Homo sapiens: one gene and its partners. The protein of the gene in region 4 interacts with the protein of the main gene of each other region in a pairwise test. Each region holds a gene or a part of one and is shown on either strand. Other genes may lie near its edges.

Region 1 (7,023 bases), on a different chromosome or scaffold from region 4:
CATCACGCTGTACACATTAAACATGTACAATTGGGTTTTTTTGAGACAAGGTCTCCTTCTGTCACCCAGTCTGGAGTGCAGTGGCTCAGTCATGGCTCATTGCAGCCTCGACCTCCTGGGCTCAATCCATCCTTCCCCCTCAGCCTCCTGAAAAGCTGGGGCCACAGGCATGTACCATCATGCCAGGCTAATGCATATATATTTATATTTTTTGGTGGAGATGGGGTTGGTCTCGAACTCTGGGCTCAAGTGATCCTCCCGCCTTGCCCTTCCAAAGTGCTGAGATTACAGGCATGAACCACAGCACCAGGCCTACATGTAAAATTTTTATTTGTCAACTATACTTTGACAAAGCTGAGAAAAAAAATCCTAATATTTAAAAAAAAAAAAAAAAGGACTAGCTTGAGACCTTTTCCAGCTCTCTGGCTTATCAGCTGCCGTCTCTTCCGGGTGCAGATAGCTGGAAGGGAAAGAAAATCCCTAAAATTACCCACAAGCCAAGAATGAAGTGTCTCCCTTTGAGCCACAGTGGCAGTTTTGTTTTTAATCATAGAAGTGTATTTTGAGCCGGGTGTGCTGGCTCACGCCTGTAATCCCCGCACTTTGGGAGGCCGAGGTGGGGGGCGGAGGGGGTGGGGATCGCCTGAGGTCAGGAGTTCGAGACCAGCCTGACCAACATGGAGAAACCCCGTCTCTACTAAAAATACAAAATTAGCCGGCGTGGTGGTGCATGCCTGTAATCCCAGCTACTCATGAGGCTGAGTCAGGAGAATCTCTTGAACCCAGGAGGTGGAGGTTGCGGTGAGCTGAGATCATGCCATTGCACTCCAGCCTGGGAACAAGAAAAAAAAAGAAGAAGAAGAAGAAGTGTATTCATTTCAGTTACTTTTAAAAAAGTGAACAGACTTTATATTTTAGAGCGGTTTTAGGTTTACAGAAAATGAAACAGACAGGGCAGCGAGCTCCTTGTACTCCTCCCCAGCACACAGTTGCCCTGTTATGAACATCCCACATCAGTGCTGTGCGTTCATTAACACCGATGAACCTGATGCATACATTATGATGAACTGAAGTCCTGGACTTCACCCTTTCTCTTGTACAGTTCTGTGGGATTTGACAAATGCATAATGCTGTACAGCCACAATGATAGTATCGTCCAGAGTAGTTCTCCTGCCTTAAAACCTCTTTTGCTGCACCTGTTTCTCTCTCCCCACTCACCCCAGCTATCTGATCTTCTTAGTGCCTCCGAAGTTTTGGTCTTTTCAGGATGTTGTAGCGTTGGAATCATGGAGTATGTAGCCTTCACCACATACACCTTCCTTCACTTTGTTGGCTTCCTTTACTTAGTAATATGCATTCAAGTTTCCTCCATGCCTTTTCATGGCTTGATAGCTCATTTCTTTTTAGCACCAAATAATATTCCGTTGTCCAGATGTAGCACAATGTTTATCCATTCATGTAACCTGTGACCGACTCACAGATAGGATGTGGAATCACTCACCACAGAGGCATTAGACAATAATCAGACCCAAGTCATTTCATGGGGGAACAAGCCCACAGGTACCAGACTGTCCAGTGAGTCAGGGCCACTCGTAGGAAGTAAGAAGAGAGGCTAGAGCATAGCCAGGTCCTCACTTTATACTTTAAGCCCATGTGTATTTCTCCCAAACCACACAGCATTGTTTCCATGCTTTCAGCTTTGCATGAATAACGTGATACTTGAACGCATCATTTATCACTTGCTCTCTTTCCCACAGCGCTGTTTTCAAGCTTCTTCCTGTTCATGATGCTCTGCTTAACCCTTAAGCTGCATGGGATTCTGTTCTGTGAATACGCCCACCCCATGTATTATCCTGCCCAGCAAAAAGTCCCCAAAACTCTGGATGGTGGTTACCTCTAGGGAGGGAGAGAAGAGATTGGGAATAGGGAGCGACTTCAACGGTGTTTGTAATGTTTTGTTTCTTTAAATAAAAGAGCTGAGATCATTTCAGCAGAATGTTGATTTAGAGTCTCCTGGACAATTTGTTGCTCAAAGTGCTCTCTTAAAGAGCACTTTAAAAAAAAAAACCTTTTATCTTATTATTTATTTATTTATTTATTGAGACGGAGTTTTGCTCTGTCACCCAGGCTGGAGTGGAGTGGTGTGATCTCAGCTCACTGCAACCTTTACCTCCTGGGTTCAAGCAATTCCCCTGCCTCAGCCTCCCAAGTAGGTGGGATTACAGATGCGTGCCACCACACTTGGCTAATTTTTGCATTTTAGTAGAGATCGGTTTCTCCATGTTGGCCAGGCTGATCTCAAACGCCTGACCTCAGGTGATCTGCCCGCCTTGGCCTCCCAAAGTGCTGGTATTACAGGCGTGAGCTACCATGCCTGGCTTATCTTATATATTTTTAAAAACAGCTTATTGAGATCTAATTTATGTACCATAAAATTCAAGTATATAATTCAGTGCTTTTATATATAAAACATATATATGAAATAGCTTATTGAGATATAATTTTTTATATAAAACAGCTTATTGATATGTAATGTATGTACCATAAAATTTAAATATATAATTCACTGGCTTTTATATATTCACGAATATGTGCAACTATCACCACAGTCAATTTTAGCATATTTTCATCAGCTCATAAAGAAACCCCAAGCCCTTGAACTATCACCCCATATCCCTCCTCCCAGCCCGTCCCTCCTACTCATAAGCAACCACTAATCTACTTAGTGTCTATAGATTTCCTACTCTAGGCATTCCATGTGAGCGGGATCATGCAATACGTGGGCTCACACAATATAAGTGGCATTCCATGTGAGTCGGCTCATGCAGTATGTCCGGCTCCTTTCACTGAGCATAAGGTCTTCAGCACTCATCCAGGTTGCAGCCTGTGTCTGAATTTCATTCCCTCTTCTGGCTGAATCGTATTCCATTGTGTATCTTGGACATATCCTATTCTGCTCACCCAGCCGTTGGTGGGCGTTTGGAGTGTTTTCGCCTTTCAGCTGTTTTAAGAGGGTTGCAGTGAACATTTGTACAAGTTTTGGACCCAATGCCTGTTTTCAATTCTCTTGTGTAGAGAGCACTTTTTAGCAGAAAAAGAATAGATTTGTGGCCTCCCTTTGTGTGCGGTCAGTGCCTTGAGAAGAGTGAACTGTGCTGCCACCTCCGGAGCCGTGGAGAGCGCGGGGCTTGGGTAGCAGCTAGGACGATACAAGTTGGGACAAGGCCAGGTGCAATGGCTCACGCCTGTAATTCCAACACTTTGGGAGACCGAGGCAGGGGGATCACCTGAGGTCAGGAGTTCAAGACCAGCCTGGCCAACATGGTGAAACCCCATCTCTAATAAAACAGAAAAATTAACTGGACGGGGTGGTGGACGCCTGTAATCCCAGCTACTCGGGAGGCTGAGGCAGGAGAATCACTTGAACCTGGGAGGCGGAGGCTGCAGTGAGTGGAGATCAGACCACTGCACTTCAGCCTAGGTGACAGAGCGAGACTCCGTCTCAAAAAAAAGAAAAAAAAAGAAAGAAACTCATGGATAATCCTCCCTCTCGTGCAGTTCGCCTCTACGGACCAAACTTCATCCTTCAGGTGTACTCATCTCAGAGGAAGTCCTGGCACCCTGTGTGCCAAGACGACTGGAACGAGAACTACGGGCGGGCGGCCTGCAGGGACATGGGCTATAAGTGAGTATGGGGCAGCACCCGCCGAGTGACAGTAACAGACAGCAGAAACACGAGAAGACCCTCTCTCTGCCTCCCTGTGAAAGCACCGGCACATGAGTGCTGGGGACAATTGTCACCTTCCAAAAGCTGAGCCCTATAACCAGCAGGTGGAATTTGTCCTGCTAGGGCTGTGCCCAGCACACAGACCTTGGCTCACTGCCACCTTGCCCTGCCTCCTCCTTGGCCTCTATAGACTCCTGGTTGCTCGGGAGTGCCCAGTGCTGTGGTCATCTGGTCAGAGGGGTAGGCTGAGGGCGTTAGGTGCCTCTTTTTCCAAGGTGCCTCTCAGCCAGGGTCCATTCACCTCCCTGGGTAGAGGTTGGACCAGAACAGCTGGCGAGGAGGGTTGGGCTGGGGAGAGCAGCAGAGACAAATCCTGTGCCAGTTTCACTTCATTCGGGAGCCATGGAAGCCTTTTGAGCTGGGGAGAGAATCAATCAATCAGACTGATACTTAAAAAATGTCATTCCTGCTCGTAGCTCTGAGGGAAGGTGGGAAGGCTTAACAGGGTGTGTGTCGCCTGACAGTGATTCCTAACGGGGGTGGGGCGGTGGTTACCATTTACCAGCACTGCCTGGGGAGATGCGGCAGCCCTCAGGCATCGGGGGAGAGGGTGGTAGGATGCTACTGCCACTTTGTTTTCCATGGGAGGGTCCCCAGGTGATTTCTATGCAACTTTAGGGTATTCAATATGCCAGTTTTCAGAATGAATTACCACTCGGTGAGAAAGTTGGCATCTTAGCTAGTCACTGTGACATCCCTAAACAGCAGGGGTGAATTACACAGCAAAGCCCCCCCATCACAGTCCAGGAACCTGGTGGAATTGATAACTGGGGCCATGTTAACATCTGTACCTTTTATTAGATTAAATGTGTGTATGATTATACAATCCTATGTCCTTCTCATAGTTTCTTGATCCTAACCTGGATAAGAAACACGACCAATGAAGGAATTTTGTCTGACACTTTAGGGTTATTGAATCGAAAAATCGTTACAATATTCTAGCACTTGGTTAGAACGTGTGATTTTTTTTCCTAAATGCTAAGGTTTTTCCCTCTTATTCTGAATGTCGTATGAGCGGTATTATGACATAGTATAGGATTTGTGTTTGCTTATGCCTTAACCATTATCACAAATAAGGTTTTCTTTTTTAGGAATAATTTTTACTCTAGCCAAGGAATAGTGGATGACAGCGGATCCACCAGCTTTATGAAACTGAACACAAGTGCCGGCAATGTCGATATCTATAAAAAACTGTACCACAGGTATGCAGCAATTTCTTCTTGAAAAATTTTGGAATGAAATCAACTAGGAGACACCATGGGGAATCGTTGTCCTGAGTCTGATTTCTCTGAGCTGCAATACTCGGTCTGGATGGGTTTTGCATTGGGAGGAGATTAGAGTCTGACCAGGCCTGGTTACTCTAAGCAGCCCTTGGTTTATTCATAGGAAGTGGCTGAGGTTTCTCTGCTATTTCATTTTCAGCCTCTACCGTCTGCCCTTGTTGGTAGCGGCTCACACTTGCAACATCGACATTCAACTCTATTTAGTTTTCTTTCCTCTTCAGACATTTAGAGGTGTACCTATTTTGTCAGGGCGTGGTTCTAGGAATCCAAGATAATGTCTCAGTGTCCCAGCCAGGGTGACCGGCTCATTCCAGTTTGCCAGGGACTTCACTGGCTTGAGCAAGGGAAGTCCTGCTCCATTCCAGGCAGCTGGGCTGGCTGGTCCCGTTAGCCCCAACCCCGGGACAGCAGTGCCAGAGGGTGCTCTGTGAGGGATGGGCAGCATTCTGGCGGCCTGGGAATGAGTTGTGGTGTTTCCAGGGGGTAGAAGTGGGTACAAGCCACAGGTCACATGATGAGTGGCTGACCTGGCTGGGAGGGCAGAAGAGGGGATGGACTTAGGCTCTTCCTTTTGCTTTGCACATATTTAGGATGTTTGCAGACTTGCTATGATTGTTGCTGTTATGTGTTTTCTGATGTGAAAGATACACAGTGTCCTTTGCCCATGAGCTCTCCTTGCCTCCCAGGTCCCCAGGGCTTATGCCTGGTGTCTAGGCATCACCTCCCTGCCTGCCAGGTGCCAGGTGCTGCATTTCGGGGGAGGATGAACTAATCACCCCGCGCCACCTTTCCTCTGAGTGGGAGCCTGGGGCAGGTTTGCATTCCTGGAGGCCGCTGGTGGAGGGGTCTGGGGGCCTGACTTCCACTGCAGCCTGCTGTCCTGGGGAATGTGGCAGGGCAAGCCCAGTGGGGAGGGCTGTGCACGGCCAGGTGCACCCATCAAAACAGCAGGGCTGCGGTTTGTCCCTGTGGAGAAGCTAAACACAGCTGCCTGGGCACTTTGTAAATGCTGAGTGGTTCTTTGTCTTTCTGGGTTACACACGGAATCAGGGAGCCAAGTCCAGCCGGGCAGGGACGGGGGGAGGGGAGGAGGTGCTGCCGTCCCTTGGCAAGAGCCTTGGGAACTCACAAGGAGGCTGGAGGGCTTGGAAGAAAGAAGAGAAGGCCATTGTCTGGTAGGCTCTATTCTATCTCGGTGGTGGTGGTGGGGGGAGGCGCACTTCTTTTCCTCTTTCTGTGCAGCAGTTGCCCTTTGATGCCTGAGTTCTTGGCTTGTTTTCTGTCGGGCTTCTGTGAATAACCACATGTGCCCTGGCGCTGTGACCACACAGGGCTATCCCTACCGACCTTAGGATTCTTAGGAAATGTCTTCTCTTAAAGGGGACATGTCTTCACTTGGCCGTGTCAGTGCCCCAGAGCCAGAGTCCACCTGGAATGCACCTGTAGTCACTGAGAACCCGGGGGGTGTGCCTTAGTAAGAAGGTGTCAGGAAGGACCTATTATTGTAGGGCCTGGGCTCCTGCAAGGTGGTTTGGGGGTGGTTGGAGGAAGCAGAGATTTGCTCTGGATTGGATGCTGTCAGGAAGCAGGGGTAATTCTGTGAGGCTGCTTTATTATTTTTTTTCTAGGAGGAGGTTGGAATGAGGCTAGGCTAAAGCTGTGATTGGTAAAGAAACGTCCGTCGCTCAAGTTAGCCAGGACAGGAGGAGACATCAGATCGTGATTTTGTGGTTGTGAGCACAAGGTTCCTGTTCTGTCTGTTCAGACATCATTTCGGAGGAGGCTCCTTGTGTCTTGCCCCATCTCAGGCATGGAGGGGCCTAGTCCGATATTGACGCTCAGTGAAATAATTCAGGTTCCGCAGAGCACACGGCCCAGCTATCAGGGCGGGCCAGCTCTGCATGCCAGGGGCCGCGTCTTCCCTTCTCAGCATAGCCTGGGAAATTCACTGCA
Region 2 (7,434 bases), on a different chromosome or scaffold from region 4:
GGTCGTCTTGTTTGCAGGAAGAGGTGGTACCGTGGGGGTGATGACCTGTGCACATGGCTTGAGCTTTCCTTGCTGCCAGGCACTCGTGGCATCTCTTGCTCACCAGGTAGATGAGCTCCACGAGGTTGAGCAGGATGCAGATGGCAGCTGTGGCCACCATGAAGAGGGTGAAAATGTTCTTCTCTGAGGGCTTGGAGATGAAGCAGTCCACTATATTGGGACATGGATCTGCGTGGCACTTGACCACAGGAGGGAGGATATATTTGGGGTAGAATGAGTGGAACACATAGAGAAAGGCGATGTCCACGCTCGCCTTGAACACTAGGCTGCAGACATATGTCCACCAGAGCCCACCCCGCTTCTTGCCGGGGTTCAGGTAGAGGCGCCCACTGTTCTCCCCATGGGCTTCTCGGTGCCTCTTCTCCTGAACCTCCCGGTAGGCCACGTGCATGACCACGAGCAGTGAGGGGCATGTCACCAGGATAAGCTGCAGGGCCCAGAGGCGCACATGGGACACAGGGAAGAACTCATCAAAGCAGACGTTGGAGCAGCCGGGCTGGCGAGTATTGCAGTCGAAGTCCTTGTGGTCATCACTCCACACACGCTCGGCCGTCACCAGGTACACCAGCACGCGGAAGATGAAGACCAGAGACAGCCAGATGCGCCCAAAGGCTGTGGAGTACTTGTTGACCCCACTCAGGAGTCCCTCAAAGATACTCCAGTTCATGGTGGACCCACGCGTCAGCTGCTACTGCAGGGAAACAAGAACAATCATTTCCTACATTTATCACAGACTTGCTCTGAGCACTTTGTAGAAATATGTCATCACATTTCATCCTTACCATCACTAGAGGAGCTGGGTTCTACTACTGTCCCCATTTTGTAGAGGGAGGGAGCTGAGGTTTAGTGGCATTATATACAAGGTTACACAACTATTAGGTGCAGGGCTGGGATTTGAGCATAGGTAATTAAGTCCAGAACCCAGCTCTTACCAATACCAGTGGATAAGGGCAGGTCCAGGGAGCCACTCATTCCTCCCCGGGCCTGAGGCTCTGGTCTTGAGGTTCTGCAGAGTGAAGACTGGTGGAGCTGGGACATTCTGCCTGCTCCCTCTGTTTCAACCCTGGCCCTCCTCCTCAGGGGGGCTGAGCCTTGAGATGGTTCTCTCCTTTCTGAGCACTGCTGCCTCTTCTCAGACAGCCCCTTCCCCAGGGGAACCTGCTCTTTGTCCTTTTCTTGGCTCAGGGATGGGACTGGAAAGGAGGCTGGAACCTTGTCCCCAAGCCCCCATCTGGTCTAACACTCTGTAATTAGCCAGGCAGAGTCCTGCTCAAGTGCCACTCAATGCAATCCAGCTGAAAGCTAAAGCAGGCAGCAATAAATTCTCTTCATACAGTAGGTTTCCTAGAGTAACCTGGTATTCCAGTGTTTCCCAAACAGTGTTCCCTGGAACCCTGTCCCATAGGTTGGCAATAGGAGAAGTGAGAGAAGAGGATTCTGTGTCAAGAAAAGTTGGCAAACATTGGGTTTAGTAAAGTTAAATAGGGTTCTTTTGCTCAACCGTGCTAATAAACTCACTAATAAATTCACCAAAAGAGGTATGAAATATGTGGCATTGCCCAAACTCATTTGCCCACAGAAGCCCTTTTCCTCCTGACATAACATTTATCATCTTGTGGAACAGCCTTGTCAAGACATCAAGTGGGAAATGCTGCTCCTGTCAGTTCTGCTGGTGAATTTGGCCTGATGAACTCACAGAATCAGATTCACCTCCGCGTAAGGACTGTGACTGCTAGGCAGAGTAAGGGGTCCCCACTTCCTCACCCGCGAGTCCTCTGCCTGATTCCTGGAGATGGGGGTGTGTCCATTAAGACCCATGCACTGTGGTTTCAACCAACTGTGCACCCTGGGACCCCAAGGAACCTGTCTGCCTAGCCACTAAAGGGCTCATGATGGCCTTCCCATGCTGGTCCAGGCTGAAGCTCACCAGGCTCTCTGGAGCCTCTGCATGATCAACTGCAAAGCAGAGTAGTGATAACAGCCAATATCCATGAAGCATTCATGCCGTGCCAGGCACCGCTCTAAGTTCTTTGTATGAATCAGTACATTATTCCTTCACAGCAACCTTAGGAAAGGGCATATTTTTTATTCCCAATTTACAGATGAGGAAAGAGGAACACAGAGGGATTAATTAACTTGCTCAACGTCACACAGCTAATAAGTGGCAGAGCTAGGATTTGAACCCAGGCAGGCTGGCTCTAGAGCCCACCCTCCGGGAACTGCCCAGCCTTAGGCCTCAGACCCTTTCCTCAAGTTTCAATGAGCTGCCTGCCTGTTTGTGTGCAGACGGATTCTGTCCTTCCCCTTGTGTGTGGATCCTGGATGAGGGTGGCTGGGGGAACCTTTGCCCACCACCCTGTCTCCACACCACCTGCGCCACTTGGACGGGGGATGGGTGGAGGTGGGGGCCGGGGTTGGGGGGAGCTCTGTTTTGAATCACCATCTTGCATGCTCAGTCCTGTCTAAGGTAGGACTCCTGCAGCTTCTCAGGGAACACCCAGGAAGGCCCCGCCCTTAGCCCCAGGGGCTCTCACCCAGCCCATCCCTACTTGGGGAGGAGTGGGGCAGGGCTTTGCAGGCCCAGGCAGAGCTACCCTGCCTGCTGAGCTTCCGGCCTGGCCCCTGCTCCTACCTTTGCCCGGCTGGGGAGACCTGAAAGAACCCAGAGCCCCTTATTCCTCCACCATCAGGACCCAGGGTGGCAGATGTGTCCAGGCCACATCCCACCACTCCCCAGCAGAGAAGTGTCCTCCTGCCACGTATGCCAAGGGGCAGGGCACATGCGGACACAGATGCCCTTACCTGAGTGACTACTCCTCAGGGCTCTCCTGGCTCCCAGCAGCCGGCAATAGGACTCAGCAAGCAGCTTGAATTTCATATCCAGAAGCGGGGAAGGTTTTCGGGGAAGCCCGTTGAAGCCTGTTTCCAGGACAGAGCCTGCCGGGTGTGCTGGCCCAGCCTGGGAGGAGGAGGAGCTGGGACCTGCACTGCCATTGGCTGGGCCCCAGCCTCCCCAGACTGCTTCTGATGAGGCTCAGGAAACTGAGGGGTTCACTCCTCCCAGGGCGCTGAGCCTCGAATCCTGGTATCCTCTCAGGGGAGAGCCACAGGTCCACTCTGACTCCTTGTTCATCCTCCCATCTGTGGGCTTGTGTGGGAGAAGCTGAGGCCTGAATCCCAGCTCTGCCACTTTCTCACTGTGTGATTTCTTGCCTTCTCTGTGAAAGTGGGAAAAGAACAACACCTACCTCATAGGGTGGATACGTGGATTAACCCAGCCTTAGGGGTGAAGTGCTTAGAACAGTGCCTGACACAAGGGAAGCCCTGTCTACAATTGCCTATAATGCGTGTATACTGCCCAGCACAGGCCTGCCGCATGGTATGTCCTCAAAAAAATGTTTCTTCCTCCTCCTTTTCCTTATTCCTAGGCCTTTTCTTTCTGAGATACAGGGAAGGCAGAGGAGAAGGGAGGGAGAGAGAGACGTATGCACTAGAGAAAATCTCATTTGGATGCATGTTGTCTTTGGGTTAAAAAGGCCAAACCCAAGCCAGGCAGGAACCACAGGAGAGGTGGAGAAGGTGGGCAGGGGCACCTGGGGAAAGCTTCTCATTAGTGCACAGACACGGTCTTTTGGCCTAATTGACTTCCAAGGTGCCCTGTATCAGCAGGTCACTTGGGGTCAGGATTCAACAGACAAAGCATCCAGGAGCCACAAACACCTCATGTCCACAAGCAAACACAATGTAGCTTCACATGAGCATACTCTTACACACAGGCCACAATTATGGGCACAGTGTTGCACACACATGCAGCAGTGGCTTTATTTTATTCACTGCTCTATCCCTTGTGCCTAGTATGGTGCCTGGTGTCTTGTCCAGTTAGGCTTCAATTTATATTTATTGAATGAATGATGTGTGAAATGCACACACCCTGCAGAGAGTCACACATTTCTATACTCCATGCTCTTTCCAAAAAGCTGTTGCCAAGTACAGGAGAGAGGAGGCATATAAAGAGATCAGTTACAACATTGTGAGAAGTCCTAGAAAAGACACAGAGAGAGAAGGGAGTTTTAAGTTCTGCCAGAGGGAGAGCCGGAGAAGGTAACATTTAAGCTGGGTCTTGAAGGATGTATAGGAGTTTACCAAGAAGAGATGCTGAGGAGGGGCCTTTGAGGCAGTGGGCACATAGCGTGCAGAGGACCTTTGTGAAAAATAATGGAAGAGCATTGGAGAGTGGGCTGGGTAGTGGTGGGGACACCACATGGCAAGGAGCCTGGAAGGTCAGCAAAGACCTTCCAGACCATGAAGGACCTGGAATGTCATGCTAAGGAGTTTGAATTTATCTTGGGTGCAGAGGGAGGCATGAGGGAATTCTTTTCTTTTTTCTATTTTTACATTTTGTATTGTGCTGAGGCAGGAAAAAGGAAGAGACATGGTCAGATTGGTACATTTGATTCTCATTATTCAAGGTAGTTATAGTCTATGAGTCACCATGAGCACCAAGTTAGTGAATATTGAAGCATTCTTCCTAGAGGACATATGAGGTTAGGTTCCTGCAAGCTTCTGTTTACAATGTGGTTATCAACTGATCAATACAGAAGTCTGTTTTATGTGTGTTTCTGAAGACACCTTGTTTAATATATATTGTTGACTCATTAATATTGGACTCATAGCCAACACCACTATAACTCATGACTGAATGAAGCTTGTCTAACACACATATTTTTTCCATAAGGCTCATCGTAGCCTTCGTGTGCTTAGAAACACTAGATGGCACTTCAGCACTGTACTCGGGGCCATTTCAAACAGCAAATCCCCAGCAAAAAGCAAGAAATGAGAAAAACATGGCACCAAGTAGACCTCCAATAGAACATGTTTATAGCATTAGAGCTGAAAGGGGAAGGCAGAATGTCACCTTGTTCAGCCACAGCTGGGAACACGTGCATTGGGAGACTCAAATTTTTGCCACTCTGTGCATGTTATAAATGGCCATGAAAGTGTCTTAAGTGTAGATTTTGGCTTAGGAATAAATTGTGGTGAGCTGGAGAATGCACAATACGGAATCTGTGAATAATGAAGATCAACTGTATGTTTAGAAAGCTTCCTCTGTTTGAGAAAAGAGGCTGGAGGGGCTTGTGAGACCGGTATGAAAGTTACTGCAATGATTTAGGCAAGAAATGAGCAAGAGGGTTGGATTTGGGAAATAGCTGGTAAATACAGCTGGCAGCTTTGGGGGACTGACTTGGGGGACTGACTGGATGTAGGATGTGAGGCAGGAGGCTGACCTAGGATGGTTCATAGGTCACTGGTTTTGGTGATTTGATAGGTGATTGGGCCACTGATAGAAATAACCCTATGAGGTAGGAACTCCAATGGCTCCATGTTCCAGATGGGAAAACTGAGGCCCAGAGAGGCTAAGAAACTTGCCTGGGCTTGCACAATCAGTAATCAGGAGAGCTGGGGGTGGAATTCAGGTAGCTGAGCTCCAGAGCCAGTGCTTTTAACACCGTAATGCTTCAACATCTTCATACCCAAGGATTTGGCAACACTGTCGGCTCCTTTATGCTTGATAAACAGAATCATTTACTCATCGTCAAATATTCATTAAGCACCTACTATGTGCCACGTGTTGCGCCTGATAGTGGAAATAAATCAGTAAGCATGGTTCTCATGGTTCAACCTCTGGGCCTGGTCCTCTTGAAGATTACAGTCAAAGGAGGAAATAAGACATTAAACACACACACACACACACACACACACACACACACACACACACCAATAACTCTAAAAATGCAATTGTGATAGAGTCACAAAGGAGAAGCACAGTGCCAAGAAAATGTATAATGGAGAACCAGACCTAGTTTCAGGAAGCAGGGAAAGCCTTTCTGAAAGTGTAAGATTTAAATTGAGGCCTGGAGCTTTCTCCTCTGCCAGTAACCCTCTGCCTGCTTCCTAAAATGCCAGCACTCTCCAGAGCTCTCCTGGATTCTCTTCTCTCAGTGCACTCTCCACAGGCTGTGGCTCCTACCACCAGCTTGGGGCTGAGGACTCCAACTATTGCTGCCACCTCGTGACCCTGGATAGTTCATGTGGCTCTTACTCAGCACACGTAGCACTGAACTCATTAACTCCAAACACATCTGTGATGAACCTATGCACCACTTTTCCCACTCACTCCCCCTGCTATGCTTGGAATGTGTCCCCCAATGCTCTCATGTATTGAAACTTAACCCCCAATGCAACAGTGTTGGGAGGTGGGACTTTAAGAGGTAATTAGGTTAGTTGGATTAACATCGTTATCATGGGAGTGGGTTTGTTATCATGAAAGTGGGCTTATTATCAAGTGAGAGGTTTCAATGGAGGCTTCATGGCTGTTCTTTTACTGAGGGATGGGACTCAGGGGATGCTGGAAATCCAGGAGGGAGCTGGAGGTGGGAAGGGTGGAAGGTGGGCATGACAGAGAACAGGCAAACCTGGAAAACAGGGAAAGAGTTGTGTGATGGGCAGAATCCACACAGACCTGGGCTCAAACCCCATTTCTGCTCCCTAACTATGTGGCCTTGGTCAACTCATTTTTTCTCTCTGAGCCTTAGTTTCCTTTCTTTCGAATGTGGAAGGGGTCGGGTGGTGCTGTTGTGAGGAGTGCTTGAGAGGATGTATATAAACATGGTGATTTACAGCTGGCATGTCTCACACATTCATTTTCTTCCACTCTGTGGGCTGTTGCTCTCTGACCTGTTGGGTGGACATTTGCTTTTCCTCTGGGACGAATGGTCATGCTCTTCCCCTATGATGTGCCTCCTTTCCTAGGCCTCTAGACCTACTCCACCAGCTCTACCCATGCTTCCAAGCTCAGTCCGAGGAGGCTGAAACTGGGATGTGCCCCTTGGTCTCTCCCTACGATTTCTGAGGCTCTGCATGAGCTGGGTCATGGAGAGGCTCACCATTCCTGAGACTGGGGCCCAATGCTTCTAGGTATCCTCGTCCCTCCAGCCCGGCCCACACTAAAGCTGAATCATTGGTCTCAATAACACAGTGTTTTGCCGTCTCTGGGCGGGTTGTCTCAGTTCCATTTGGGGCCTCTCTTTTAGAGGATTGAGGGCTCATGAGCAGTTCTTGAAGCTTTGGCCACTGGCTGCCACATTTCCCCTTGCTAACAAGAGTTCCAAGGCCAAGGACCTTCCTGTTGGGCTCTTGCCTGGATGCTCAGAATCTCTGCTGAGTCATGGTCCAGTGTGGGCACCACAGGACTTACTGAAAGTAACCAGACAGCTCTGCATTTTAAATCTGGTTCCATCAAGTGGTCAGTACACGTAGCAGGTGCTATCAGTATCTGCCCCAGATCCTCTTGGCATACTCCTTTTCGGTGGTTAA
Region 3 (6,390 bases), on a different chromosome or scaffold from region 4:
TAGAGCCAGTCACAGCTGAGTGGCAGAGTGGGTTACCCTTGGGAGGCGTGGTGCTGTGAGATGCTTGAGGTACAGGGCGGACTGGAAATTAAAGAGGTGGGGGAGAGGCAGTCCGGCCCGGAGTCAAGAACTGAGGGTGGGTGGGAAAGCATACAGCTGGGGCCCAGGCAGCCTTCCCAGGGTGGGGAGGGCGCTGGATGCCAGGCCCAGCCAGGTGAAAGAGGCACCTTTCCAATCACAGCTGTGACACCCAGGACACTGAACTGCCTTGGCATGTCCTCACCCATGGGCCGGGCACTGCTGGTCCCAGGGGTTTGTATTGTACCAACAGGCAGCGCAGACCGACAGGCCCCCAGACCCTGCTGTAGAGGAAGGTCTACCGAAATGAGGCAGAAATCCCAGACCTGCCTGCACTGGCTGTCTGACTTCAGGAAAACGATTCAACCTCTGAGCCTGTTTTTTCATCTGTAAGAATGCAGGACAGCAGTGATGGTCTCCTTTTTTTTTTTTTTTTTTTTTTTTTAAGCTGGAGTCTCGCTCTGTCACCCAGGCTGGAGTGCAGTGGTGTGATCTCAGCTCACTGCAACCTCTGCCTCCCCGGTTCAAGCGATTCTCCTGCCTCAGCCTCCCGAGTAGCTGGGATTACAGGCACAAGCCACCACGCCTGGCTAGTTTTTGTATTTTTAGTAGAAATGAGGTTTCGCCATATTGGCCAGGCTGGTCTCGAACTCCTGGCCTCAAGTCATCTGCCTGCCTCAGCCTCCCAAGGTGCTGGGATTGCAGGCATGAGCCACCGTGCCCAGCCAATGACTGTCTCTTGAGAGGGGTGTAAGGACTTGGCATACGGCAAAGCCCAGGATCAAGTTCCTGGGGCCTGCCATGGCTTGGGTGGGGGTGGGGAGTTGGGTAGGGGAGGTTGAGTCCCCTGAGATTGTGGTGGAATGGAGCACCCACCAGCAACCCCCCACCCCTCTCCAGGCCAGTGCTTTCCACAGACTTTTCACAGACCTGGAGGGGCTGAAGGACCCACCTACCTAGAACACAGGCGATCAGGATGACAGTGCTGGGAAGGCACAAAGAGGTCATTTCACAGATGGAAAGACAGAGATTTAAAGTGGGAGGCAAGTGACCAAACCCACCTCCTCCCACCTTGGGCCAGAACAGTCAAGACAAACTCAGCACTGCCCCTGGGGAGGCTGGGAAGCCCACCTGACTCCTCAGTGAGGCAGCCTCGGGCCACAGAGTTCCCTGTCCCCAGGATGGTAAAAGTAACCAATCTTCAACAACCACAGGTACTTGGCCAACTGGCTCTTGTTCTCAACCCTGTGAGGGAGGCATCAACCCTGTCGGTGTACAGATGAGACTGTGGGGCAGAGGCCAGCTCGCCCAAGGCACTTGCTTACAATGGCAGAGACAGACCTTGTGACACAGGACTCCCTGATAACTGGGCATGTTGTCTCGATGAGTCGGGGACAGGTTTCCCCTCTTGCATCTTGTAAACAAAAGCCACCCCTAAGTCAGGAATCTTCACACACAAGCCCCAGGAAGCTGCGGTTTCCCTCCTAGCTGGCCTCTGGACCGAGTGCAGCCCCACTTGTCTCCCTTTCCCTCCACCATGTCAGGCTCCGACTGGGTCAGGCCAGGTAGGCAACAGAGTTGGCCCAGCCATATCTTTCTGGAGACTCTGAATCCCCTGGGACACTCTCAGGGCAACAGAAGTGCCAGGGGGCTTGGAGGCTGTTAGTGCAGAACCCAAGCTGAAATCTCTCTACCCCCTGCCCACCACCTGTGCCAAAGTTGTTTTTTGTGTTGGCACAGCTGAGGAAATAAGGAAAGAGGAAACCTGTCTCTTACCTAGTAAGAAGCCTCTCCCCTCCAGGAAAGGGAACATTTGGCTCATAGCTGAAGTGACTAAGGCACAGATAGGCCTCAGGTGCCTCCTGGCTCCCTGCCTCAGGGAGGCTCAAATGAGAGTGTGAGGGTCCTCACCCCCGTGCCTATTGCTATAGGCAGATGGAGGGGCTCAGATTCATAAAGGCAAAGGCCAGCCAGGCTGAGAATGGGGCATGAGGCAGGCAGTATGGGCGCGCTGGGGCCAGCCTCCCCTTGGACGTCCCGTGGCTCACCACCTTTGCCCCTGCGAGTGGTAGAACATTTGCTGAGGATTAGGCCCAAATACAGCCCTTCCAGAGCTGGCCCAGGAGCTGGAAGAGCAGGGTCACACTAGCTTTATACCCGCTGAGTCCCCACCCTGGCTGTAGTCAGATGGGAGGCTGGGAAGAGCTCCATTCCTGGAGTGGGGCAGAGGTCAGGAGGGGGACCTGGTTTACAACACAGCTGGGGTAGGCAAAGTCCTGGCTGGGCCTGGGGGACACTCAGTCCAGCCACCTGCAGGTCCTGTTCATGCCCCAGTTGGTGCCTGGCTGAGCAGTCAGTCTGAGGGGCCCTGGCATGCCTGACAGTCCTTCATGTCCTCCGAGTAGTCCTCGATCTGGATGGTCACGGTGTGGAAGTGGAACTTCCCTTGGAGGCGGCTGCTGGCTGTCTTCAGCACAGCCTGGGCGTCTGTATTCTGAGCTGGGGGCCGAGAGGACACAGCGGGGGAAGCCATTTACTCTGGCCCTTTGGAACCATCAGGAGCCCAAATCTCATACCCCATCCCCAGCAGAACAGGATGGGGGACCATGAACATGGAGAAGCCCCCAGATTCCATTCCTCTGCCAGGTAGCCTCCCAGCCCAGACCTGGCTCATGCCTGAAAGAGCTGGTAAAGCACTGGCCTTAAGGCCAGGAATCTGCCACCTACTGCCATATACTAGCTGTAAAAGCCTGGGCAAGTAACTTTACCACCCAACCCCAGCCTCAGTTTCTTCATGGATAAATGAGATTGTGCTGATCAGATGGAATAATGCGTATCAAGTACTCAGCATGAGGCTGGGCTTGATGCATGGGCACTGTGAGCATCTGGGGTCACCTGGACCCGTTGGGGATGGCACTAGGCCTTTGGCTGCCTGTCTCCCACCCCACCCTGAGTGTCCCAAGCACTCACCAATGGCGATGTGGACAGACAGAACAGGCTGGGCCACCGTCAGTGCCCAGATATGCAGGCTGTGCAGGGCTTCTACCCCCTCCACCGACAGCAGCAGATCACGAACAGCTGTGAAGTCAACGCCCTTGGGGGTCCCTGAGGACGGCAAGGACAGGGGAAACTAAAGGAAACTACCCCTCCCACGCCTGCCCATTGGTGCAGGGCTGGCTCCTGATCCTCAGGTGTCATCCCCTCAAAGAAGACCTCTTTGGCCTGCAGGTCTGAGGCTGCCTTCACCTCCCAAGGTCTCTGCCCTATCACTCTGTTGTATTTCCTCTCCACTCTTAACACTGAAATTATTTATGAATGTACTTATTGTCAGTTTCTCCCTCTAAAATGGACACTCCATGAGGGCAGGACAGTCTCCTTTGATTACCACAGTATCCTTGGTGCCTAAAACAGCACCTACTCCATAGTAGGTGCTCAATAAATATATTTTTTGGTTTTTTTTGAGACGGAATCTTGCTCTGTCACCCAGGCTGGAGTGCAGTGGCGTGATCTTGGCTCACTGCAACCTCTGCCTCCCTGGTTCAAGCAATTATCCTGCCTCAGCCTCCTGAGTAGCTGGGACTACAGGCGCATGCCACCACGCCCGGCTAATTTTTGTATTTTTGGTAGAGACAGGGTTTCACTGTGTTAGCCAGGCTGGTCTTGAACTCCTGACCTCAGGTAATCTGCCTGCCTCGGCCTCCCACAGTGCTGGGATTACAGGTGTGAGCCACCGCACCTGGCCAATAAATATATTTTTGAATGGAAAGAAGGAAAGAACAGATCCTGAGAATCCTTGGACCCACCCAGGGCACGATCATCATCTTCATCATTATCGCTTTCATCTGGGTTAGCATATTCTTGGAGAAAAAGCTCTGACCTGCAGCCAAATACTGCTAAGCCCAGGCCAGCATCCTACTCCATTCCAGACTGACCCTGACCACGCAGAGGCCTATGACCCTGGCCCAAGACCCCAGGCCTAGAGCATAAGAAAGCCAAGGTGCAGGGCCAGGTGTGGTGGCTCACATCTGTAACTCCAGCACTTTGAGAGGCCGAAGTGAGATGATTGCTTGAGCCCAAAAGTTCGAGACCAGCCAGGGCAACATAGTGAGACCCCCCCCCCATCTCTACAAACATTTAAAAGTTAGCCAGACATGGTGGCATGCGCCTGTGGTCCCAGCTACTTGGGAGGCTGAGGCAGGAGGATTACTTGAGCCTAGGAGGTCAAGGCTGCGGTGAGCCTTGGTGGCACCACTGCACTCTAGCTTGGATGACAGAGCAAGACCCTGTTTCAAAAAAAAGAAAAAAGAAAAAAAAAAGGTAATTCAGGGCAGACCAGATCATTCTCCACCACTGACCGTTCTCCAACCCCACAAAGCACAGCCATGTCCCCACAGGGTGTGGCATTGTTTGGTCCCTGAGATGTAGGAAAGGCCTGCGCTGCAGTGGATTCAGTAGCTTTGTCCAAGGCTGACTGTCCTTCTCTGAGCCTCAGTCTGCCCCTCTGTGCAATGAGAAGCATAATCCTCACCCCCTCTCTCTTCCTGAGAGAAGGCAGCCAGAGCCTGGGGAAGTGTATAGGGGAGGGCTGGAGAGCTCCAGATGCTACAGATGTCCCCCAGAAGCCACCTGACTAGGCAGAGGAGGCACCCTTAGGGGTAGGGGGAAGGGAAGACTCGGGCTGGGGGACGGTTCCAGGAACTGCCACACCTGAAAGCCCAGGCTCTATGTCAAGATCAGCCCAGGGGCCCCAGGAGGTTTTCCAGCCTATGCCGGGGCTCCGGATCCTGGCTCCCCGCCCATGTGCTAGGATGCCCCAGACACACACATACCCTATTTGAGCTGATTAGCGCTTGAGAGCCAAGAGCAAAAAGGGAGCCACAAAGCCCAGGTTACCTTCCATCAACACCAGGATCACATCTCTCAGGATGGTCAAGGTTGTCCCCAGGACCAGGATGGAGAAGACGAAGGTGCAGATGGGGTCTACATACTTGTATTCTGGCTGCAGGAAGACAGGAAGGCAGACCTGGAGTTCACCATCTAACACCTCAGCTTCCCTTCTCCCCTCCCACCCAGCACTGCTGGGGAGAGGTGCTCTCTCTGCTGGGTGGGCATGAGCCTCGCCCTGGCCCTGCCTCCCAGTTTTCTGCTCTTTATTTCACATCTGCAAGAGCAGAAAGGACAGACCACAGTTCAGAATAAGGCAGTCCCTTCCCACCCCTCCTTCTCAAGGAGCTGAGACATGGACAGAGCAAAAAGGCATCTTAGATACCATCTGATCCGCCATCCGTCCCCATTTGACAGATGGGGAAATTGAGGCTCCATTAGAGCAAGCAAACTCATCCAATGTCACATGGCTAGCAAGGAGGAGAGCCAAGCTTCAGAGCAAATGCCTGCCTCTTTCCACTACAGCTCCCTGCCTCTATGTGATGGGCATTGCCCAGGGTTTGACAACACACAGTCGTAGGCTTGAATCTGGCTCTATGCTTTACCGGCTGTGTGACACTGTGCAAGTCACTGAACCTTTCTGAGCTACAGAAAACACTACCACCTACCCTTCAGGTTGTTGTGAGGATCAGAAGTGCTGACACTTGGTAGGTATTGGATAAATGTTCCTTTCCTCTCCCCACCCTTTTCCCTAGAACTGGGAGGGAGCTAGAATCTGAAAAGAAACCCCGGTAGAGAGTATACTCAGGTGGTCTACACTCCCCTGCCACCCCCACCACCCTGTGTCCCAGCTCTGACCTTGAAGTATAAAATATAGGCTGCCACTAGGACACCCATGCTCTGCATAAAGTCGCCGATCACATGGATGAAGGCAGCTCGGACGCTGGGGTTCTCCTCCTGCTGGTTGGTGGTGCCGTGGCTGTGCCCATGGCCAGACTGGTGAAGGGTCAACCCCATTCTATGGAAGTGGAGACAAAGCCAAGGGCTCACTGAGGTCGCAGATGGAGGTCACCTATTAGGACTAGCCAACTTGTAGGGCAAAAATCTCAAGCCCCTAAACCTTGTGATCTCTTTGGCCATGTGAGAAGTCCAACCCACGTGGCCTTGGTTCAGACAGCCATGAGAGATAGGGCCCAGCGCCAATGCCAGGCTGAGCCTGGGCACAACAATGCCACAGTGTCAAATCTCAGAGCAGGAGGGCATTAGGGAGGTCACTGTCAGTTCACTCCATCATGTCACAGATGGGGAAACTGAGGCCTCTGAACAAAGACCCCGAAAGAGACACCCATTGTCTCTAACTGAGACCAATTTCAGACTTGGGTTCTGCCCCTAGGGACAGCTACTCCTGCAACAACTGGCCTCTTCCCG
Region 4 (7,974 bases):
CCCTGCCATAGCTCGCCAGCCCATGAAGCCGATAAGGGCCACATAGACCCCCACCAGGTAGGTGAAGGCACCTGAGAGGCATGGGTAGAGGAGGGCATAGCACAGGCCCGACAGCGCTGCCATCACCAGACCTGTCCGAAGAGCCAGTGGCTGCATGCCAAAGGCCGAGGCGTAGAACATGTGGGTCACAGCAAACATCAGCAGACCTGGGGGTAAGAGGGGCAAAGGCAGCTGAGGGCAAGCTTGATGAAGAATGAGTAACAGGGTGGGGGTAGGGATGGATGTGGCGATGGAGTGGAGTGTTTGGGATAACCCAGCAGCTTTGCTTTGGGATAACAGGGGTAGGAAGATCTAAAGTTAAAGACCACCACCCCAGTCCCCTGAAGGACTCTGGAACTGATCACTAGTTCCCCTGCGAGGTCATCCCCTAACAAGGACCCTCACAGTCCCTGGCCTCAGAAACCCTCAGGCTCCCCACACTCTGGTTCAAGAACTCCCTCTTCCAAATCTTTGCCCACAGCCCAGGACCCTCTATCCCCCAGCCCCAGGACTCCTCCCAGGCAACTACTATGGCCACTGACCATGCACGAAGTATCCTTGGTCCTGCCAGATGAGGAAGGCGTCACCTACAGCAGAGAAGACAAGCCCCACAAAGATGCGGGTGGCGCTGGGGTGGGCCAGCAGGAATCCCAGGCCATGGGCCAGAAGGAAGAGCCAGAGGCAGAAGATAGGCAGGCACTTGATGAGGGTGCTGACCCACGATGGGCTAGATGAGGGCAGCCAGAGCACAAAATACACGCAGGTGGCCTTGAAGAACGGCACCAGTTTGGGTCCTTCACTCTTCACCTGGAGGACACAGGACAAGGGCAGCACTCAGAACTTGGGGGTTGAAAGCCAGCACCCTCAGCCTAGGCATCCACCCCAGAGACACTCCCATCCATACCCCCACCTCACTTCCACCCCCAACCTGAGAAGACTGACACAGAGAAACCCAGCCTGGCCTGCCTCTACCAGCCAGCAGGTTGTGGCCAAACCCATTACTGCCCTGAGGCTCAGTATATTAGGAGGGGCACCCTTCTGCAGCCTAGTGTGCTTCTCCCTTCCTGCCCCCTCCTTCTCCCTCCTCAGGGCCCCTTTAGCCCCTCCTCTCTGCCAGCAACAGCCCCCAGCTGTTCACTCTGGAATGGAGTGAAGTCAGTGGGAAACCACAGAGACACCCTGACTGGCCAACTCGTGATCCTCAGCATGGGGCCAGGGTGCAGCCTTAGGGCCCTGGCAACACCAGGTGTGTGCCAGGAATGTGGGAAAGCAGGCAATGGCAATCACCTCAGCCACCACAGCCTCTCTCCTCCTCAACCAGTCTGTTCCTCAGCCTCCACTCCACCTGCCCCAGCCTGAAGGTGGCATCAAGGGCAAGGAGGGCTATGCTAGGGATGCTGGCTAGATAAATGGACCCATGAGTTGGGAGCAAGAAAATTGTCCTTCAAACACCAAAGATTTCAAGGATTGGGGGAAGGGAGGGTGTGTGTCAGTCAGCCTCATTTCCCAGAGAACAAGAGCAACTCAAGCCACACCAGAAAGAGGCAGGAAAGGGGGGAGAGGTTCTATTCCCAGCTTCTGATCTGGAGCCAGCAGACAGGCTGGGAGATGGGGAACTGAGAGGGGGAAGTTAGAGCAGCTGACTTGGTCTCAGCCGGATTAGCAGAGGGCAGCTAAAGAAAGGTTGTACCCAAGGCCACTGCAGGCAGAGTCCAAGCTGGGGGAGGGGGCTGCAGCGATGTTCTGAATCTGTGATCCTTGAAACTCCTTTCCTTGGGCTGCTAACAGATCCATTGAGGGTGATATGGAGCAGCTGGAGTTCCCTGTACACCCACACTCTGCCCAAAGCGATTGTGTCTCTGGCTAGGTGAGCTGCCCAGCACAGGACTTGGGAAACACTCAGAGTCCAGACGACCAGGTACCTAAGGACTGATCAGACTGTGATGAGGAGGATTGGGAAGAGGCGGATGGGTGGTTCCAGGGTCCAAGCCTTTCCTTGTTCTGCCAGAGGTAAGAGCAGTGAGAAGAGATGACTTCCACTTCCCATGGAAATTAAGGCTGGTCAGGGTAGGGGCATGGTCAGAGGAGGCGGCTGGAGGGGATGCCCAGGCCCACAATGCCCAGCAACCACCTGCCAGCCCCTGGGAGCATTAACCTCCGCTCCATGGCCTCTCCCAGCCCCATATTTTCTAGAAGGAGATACTGGCAGTAGCTGGAGAGACCCTGACAGTTATAGGGAACCCAGTAGTAGAATAAGGAGGATGGGGAGACGAAACAAAAGGTTCAAGTTGAGAAAGTCTGAAAAGCAGGGGATGTCATAGAGAATGCCCCCTTTTCCCCCAGCGCGTTATCAGCGCTTCTTAGACTCAGGGGCGTCCGCCAACTTGTTTACAAAATGAGGAAGGTTAGGAAACAAACTTGGGACGGCATTCCCAGGAGGTCCCTGTTATCCTCCCAGCATCCCCCGCCCCCACGCCTCCCTGTGGTCCGCCTACGCGGAACTCTGCGGCCGGCAGCGGTCCCCTCCCTCTCCCGGGCCGCGACCCCGCCGACCCGCGCCAAATACATGGAGATCAACAAAGTCACGCTTCCGAGTCACGTGGCCAGTGTTTTCCTCCCTCCGCGGGCGGGCTGGGGGCGCGCGAGGAGGGGCGCCGCGAGTCTGAGGAGCGGGGGGCGGTGACAGCGCCCGCCTCCCGCCGCGGGACTCCGGCCGCCACGGGACCCCCGCCCCGCCTCGGCCCCTTCGGCAGCTCGGCCTGCCGAAGTCCGGTGGCCAGGCCGGTGGGCTCCAGCCGCGCCGGGCACTGGCTCGCTCGCTCGCTCACTCACCACAGTGACCGGGGACACCATGGCGGCGGCGGCGGCGGCTGGCACCCTGCTCCGGGCTGCAGCGGCCAGGACGCGCCCACGGCCAGGTAAGCCGGCGACGATTCTACAAAGCCCGGAGGGACGGACAATACCTCCCGAGCGCCCGGCGCCGGGGTTCTGTCAGCTAGCCCCGTGACGTCACCGCTGCCAGGGCCAATGAGCGGGCGGGAGCCGGGGGGGCGGGGCCCGGCTGGCGGCGCCGGCCAGGCCCCCGGCTGCTGCTCGGAGAAAGGAGGCATCTCCCAGGGGTCAGAAGGCGGATACCCCCCAGGCCCCGCCCCCTTGGGAGGCCGTGCCAAGGCGTCCACGGAACGTGAACGTGACCGTGACCCCGGTGCCTGGGTGAGGACTGAGCTTGGCTGAGAGACAAACACATTGCTGTCCTGGACGCACAGCCACATACATTTTCTCATAACCCGGGAGCAAAAGGCAAAGACAGATTCCCTTAAGCCTTTAAACATGCAGTCCACGCCGATACGATTGCAATTGGACTCACAACCTTCACTGTGTACAAACACACATCCAAATCATCAGCAAACACACAACCTTCGACTTGAAAAGCGGCACGTATATAGGTATGCAGCAGCCATGGACCCATAATCGTAGCATATACATCACACATACAGAATCATAATTACCCTTAAGCACTCAACAAGTACACAGATCCAAAACCAACAACCACAAATTGACATATATGCTCCATGTAAGAAAAGAGACATATACAGGGACTCTACAGCAGCTCGTAGACCCATGACCCTAATATAGAAACAAACACAGATAATTGGCCGTAGGCACACACCTCTTACAACTCAGAGACCACTGCCACACATACAAGAGCACCCCAAGAATGACAGACAGGCAGACCCAAAGAAGCGTGAGCTAACTTTGCCAAAAATACGTCCCAAGTGGATTTAATGTTGATTTTACGTAGACTAAAGGAACACAAGCTCATTCAGAGCGGTGCATGTTCAGAATCATTGGAATTACATGGAGAGGTAGGTGGCCAGATGGACTGAAATCTAGTCCCAGTTTTGCCACTTCCATGCTGTTAGATTGGGTGAATCACTTCCCCTCTCTGGTCTTGATTTCCTCACTTAGAAGATGAGCGGGTGAGTTCTAAGGTTCCACCCAACTCTGACATGTGTAGGTTGGGGAAGAGGAAGGGCTGCTGGTTTTAGGAAATTTAAGTCTAGCAATCCTGGAGATGGAGATTTCAGCTGTATCTCAAAGGATGGGCAAGTAGTCTGTAAGCTACTGTAGAAGGGCAGTAGCTGTGTGTCAGGCTTTGGGAATTGATGGGAAAGGGGTGACCAGCCCTAATTAGCAGCCAAAAAGGAGTTTCAAACATCCTGGCATGGTGACACAGGCCCTTGTGCTGGTCCTGAGCCTTGTGCTGTTTGGGCAGAGACCGACAGGCTGAAGTCTCCTGTAAGCCCCTCCCACAATGGGTCTCTTCCTTTTCCTTCTGGATCCTACCCAGTTTTCCCTAAAGTCCCAACACCCATTCAGAGGGGTGATAGTCCTCTTCTGGTGACAGAATTGGCAACCAGAGATTCAGAGTCCAGTACAACAAGAGTGAGAGTCAAGGCTTGGGACAGGAGTCACCCAGATCTTCCCCCCATCCCCTCCAGTCCCCTCCAGCATAGAGTTCTAAGGGTCAATGACCTCTGCCTACTCCTCTTTCTTTCCAGTTAGGGGCTTTGGGGAGAGCACCTTACCAGAATGAAGGACTATAACTGCTGCCCCAGGGCTTTGTCACTCACACACACACACACACACATTTCTACCAAGTGTGCTGCCTAGAGAGAACACTGGCTTGAGAGTTAGAAATGCCATTCTTAGTCCTAGTGCTTCCTTCTCCATGACTCACTACTGTGGTGTATAATTGAGCACATCATTCCATCTTTGGAGCTTCAGATTTCTCATGAATAAAATGGAGGAAATGGGCTAGTAGAAGGTGCAAATATTCCAGTTTTCCAGCCAAACCCTCTAACATCACCTGAGGGATAGTTCTCAAACAGAAATTTGCCAAGTCAGGGCATTTTTCATTTCTCTAGACCTTAGTTTGCCTCTCTATAAAAATGAGAAGGTGGACTATATCCGTGGTTCTCAACAAGTGGTACCTATCAAAATTACTTGGAAAGCTTTTAAAAACATAGATGCCGTTGCCCCACCCAAGACCTACTAATTAGTGGCACCAGTTCTAAGAAGCTTGCACATACAAATACCTAACAATACAAAACATGAGACTTAGAACTCCCATCTACAGGGTTCCACTCAGTGCTTGATTACCCAGTAGGCAAACTAATCATATACACAAGTCGCCTACAAAGCAGAGGCATCCCCCCTCAATGCCGGTTTTTCTCCATTTGCCTTCCCACCACCTAGATTCATTCTTGGCTCTTCTCTACCCTGTCCTGGGAGCCTGAGCTCTATGGACTGTATCTTCAGGGATCACCAGGGCCCTGGCTTCTGGCTGAGTTCAGCCAATGAAATTCAGAGGCAGGAGATGAGAACATGGACGAGGCCTGATGGACCAGGCTGAGATTCTGGCTGTGGCCTGCTTCTCCATGGCTACAGCCCCAGGCTCCCTCCCCATACCTTCAGGCCAGGGGTGGCAACAGTTTCCTGCTGTTGCTAGTCTTTTTTTTTTTTTTTTTTTTTTGAGACAGGGTCTTGCTCTGTCCCCCAGGCTGCCATGCAGTGGTGTGATCTATGCTCACTGCAACCTCTGCCTCCTGGGTTCAAGCGATTCTCCTGCCTCAGCTTCCCTGGTAGCTGGGATTACAGGTATGTGCCACCACGCCCGGCTAATTTTGTATTTTTAGTAGAGATGGGGTTTTACCATGTTGGTCAGGCTGCTCTCGAACTCCTGACCTCAGGTGATCCACCCGCCTCGGCCTCCCAAAGTGCTGGGATTACAGGCATGAGCTACTGTGCCCAGTGCTATTGCTAGTCTTTAGGTGCCTCCTCACCCATGGCTAGTTTCGTCTCTGCAAATAGTCATTAAATTCTCTTCAGTTAAATTATTGAGTGTGCCAGTACCCTGGCTGATATAGGCACCCACAAAGCAAGGGCACCACCCTCTTCCCAAAGAGAAAGAGCTTATTCTGACTTCATTCATATGGTTGAGATTTGTTGTTTCAAAAGTAAATTTTCATTTACTATTTACTAGTGTTTACTATTTACTAGTGTTTTTATTTTGAATTGCATATTGCAGGAGGCAGAAAGTGGGATAAGGCTTCCTGAAAATGGGCATTTCTCCCTTTTGGTAGGAACTGGCATTTCTTCCTTTCCAACCTATTGGCATGGCCCTTTTCACACAGCTTTGTAATTTTCCCTGTGCTTGTGAGCCCATTCACTCACTCATTCATCCAACAAATGTTTACAGTGCACCTAATATGTGCTAACCACTGTATTAGGTTCTGGGGTGTAAAATATTGAGTAAAATATATTCTCTATCCTTATGGAGCTCACAGTTCATTTCAGACAGGCAAGTAAACAATTATTCAATGTGGTAGCTGACCTAATGAAGTATGAAGGTGTCACAGGTGGCATTAAAAAAAGACATCAGAATTATAAATTACACCTGGAGCAATTGCAGGAGCTAGAGTTAAATCTAGAAGAACGAGTTAGTCTTTATTGAGCAGACACCAATGTATATGCCATTCTAGGCAGAGGGAATTGCATGTGTACATAAGAGCACAAGAGACACACTGAATTCAGGGAAATATCTGTAGTACTGATTCGAGCTGGGGAGTGAGAAGGTGAAACTGAAGAAGCATGAGCCAACTCAGATCTTGAAGATTCTACTCAGCCAGGCGCGGTGGCTCATGCCTGTAATCCCAGCACTTTCAGAGGCCAAGGTGGGCAGATCACCTGAGGTCAGGAGTTCAAGACCAGCCTGGCCAACATGATGAAACCCCGTCTCTACTAAAAATAAAAAAAATTAGCTGGGTGTGGTGGTGGGCACCTTCAATCCCAGCTACTTGGAGAATCGCTTGAACCCAAGAGGCAGAGGTCGCAGTGAACCGAGATTGTGCCACTGCACTCCAGCCTGGGCAACAAGAGCAAGACTCTGTCTCAAAATAAATAGATAAATAAAAATAAAAATGAAGGTTCTACTAAGAAGTTTAGACTTGACATAGTAGATGACACTAAACCAATTGTCCTCTGTTCCTTAGCATCTCTAATTGTGCCCGCTGTCATCCACCAGCGACATGGGCAATGCACAGAAATGATGACCCATCATCATTCTGAGCTTGCCTCGCTTCCCCCATGGGGCTTCTTCTCACCCAGTGGCCTCCTTCATCTCTGACCTCTGTTGTTTTGCCACAGGATATTTTTCCTCACTTAGTTTGTCCTGCTTGAAATCATAATCCAGCCCTAAACTGATTATCTTATTCCCAACCTGATGCTGGATCTCAGCTAATTTCTTTTCTGTTTCAGGCCTCCAGAGCACTTTTTTTTTTTTTTTTTTTTGAGACAGAGTCTCGCTCTGTCGCCCAAGCTAGAGTGCAGTGACGCAATCTCAGCTCACTGCAAGCCCCGCCTCTCCAGTTCACGCCATTCTGCTGCCTCAGCCTCCCGAGTAGCTGAGACTACAGGCGCCCACCACCACATCCAGCTAACTTTTTGTATTTTTAGTAGAGATGGGGTTTCACCATGTTAGCCAGGATGGTCTCGATCTCCTGATCTCATGATCCGCCCGCTTCGGCCTCCCAAAGTGCTGGGATTACAGGTGTGAGCCACTGCACCCAGCCTCCAGAGCACTTTTAACCAACTCTCAGGGTCACCACACATACCCGATTCCACCCCCACCCCACCTGCAGATATGTCGAAGAAATCAGAGATGTTAAGGAGGGTGTGACAAGGTCAGATGTTCTGATAACAGTGTGAGGGCGTCAGTTGTTGAGTTGTAAGGAGTGAGCTGAATGTGTGTGTCAGCCTAGTGGAGAATGTTTGGGTGGAACTGGATACAAAACTAGGGCTCAGGCTCACAGGGAAGATTTGGAAGTCTCAACCATACTGAAAGTCTATGGATGTGATGAACCAGAGAGGAGC

What was found.
Region 1: the proteins of TMEM86A (region 4) and TMPRSS2 interact in binary tests that used the Homo sapiens proteins (3 or more experiments, as listed by UniProt).
Region 2: the proteins of TMEM86A (region 4) and GJB5 interact in binary tests that used the Homo sapiens proteins (3 or more experiments, as listed by UniProt).
Region 3: the proteins of TMEM86A (region 4) and SLC30A2 interact in binary tests that used the Homo sapiens proteins (3 or more experiments, as listed by UniProt).

What each region holds. Positions count from the first base shown.
Region 1 is NC_000021.9:41,477,138-41,484,160, reverse strand, and holds part of TMPRSS2 (transmembrane protease serine 2), read left to right. Parts: intron 1-3,558; coding exon 3,559-3,685; intron 3,686-4,878; coding exon 4,879-4,989; intron 4,990-7,023. UniProt on the Homo sapiens protein: Plasma membrane-anchored serine protease that cleaves at arginine residues. Participates in proteolytic cascades of relevance for the normal physiologic function of the prostate.
Region 2 is NC_000001.11:34,750,624-34,758,057, reverse strand, and holds the start of GJB5 (gap junction beta-5 protein), read right to left. Parts: upstream 3,012-7,434; 5' UTR 2,863-3,011; intron 752-2,862; 5' UTR 728-751; coding exon 1-727. UniProt on the Homo sapiens protein: One gap junction consists of a cluster of closely packed pairs of transmembrane channels, the connexons, through which materials of low MW diffuse from one cell to a neighboring cell.
Region 3 is NC_000001.11:26,036,729-26,043,118, forward strand, and holds the end of SLC30A2 (proton-coupled zinc antiporter SLC30A2), read right to left. Parts: intron 5,981-6,390; coding exon 5,821-5,980; intron 5,078-5,820; coding exon 4,972-5,077; intron 3,184-4,971; coding exon 3,049-3,183; intron 2,578-3,048; coding exon 2,432-2,577; 3' UTR 524-2,431; downstream 1-523.
Region 4 is NC_000011.10:18,693,805-18,701,778, reverse strand, and holds the start of TMEM86A (lysoplasmalogenase TMEM86A), read right to left. Parts: upstream 3,001-7,974; 5' UTR 2,893-3,000; coding exon 2,872-2,892; intron 847-2,871; coding exon 582-846; intron 207-581; coding exon 1-206. UniProt on the Homo sapiens protein: Catalyzes the hydrolysis of the vinyl ether bond of choline or ethanolamine lysoplasmalogens, forming fatty aldehyde and glycerophosphocholine or glycerophosphoethanolamine, respectively and is specific for the sn-2-deacylated (lyso) form of plasmalogen.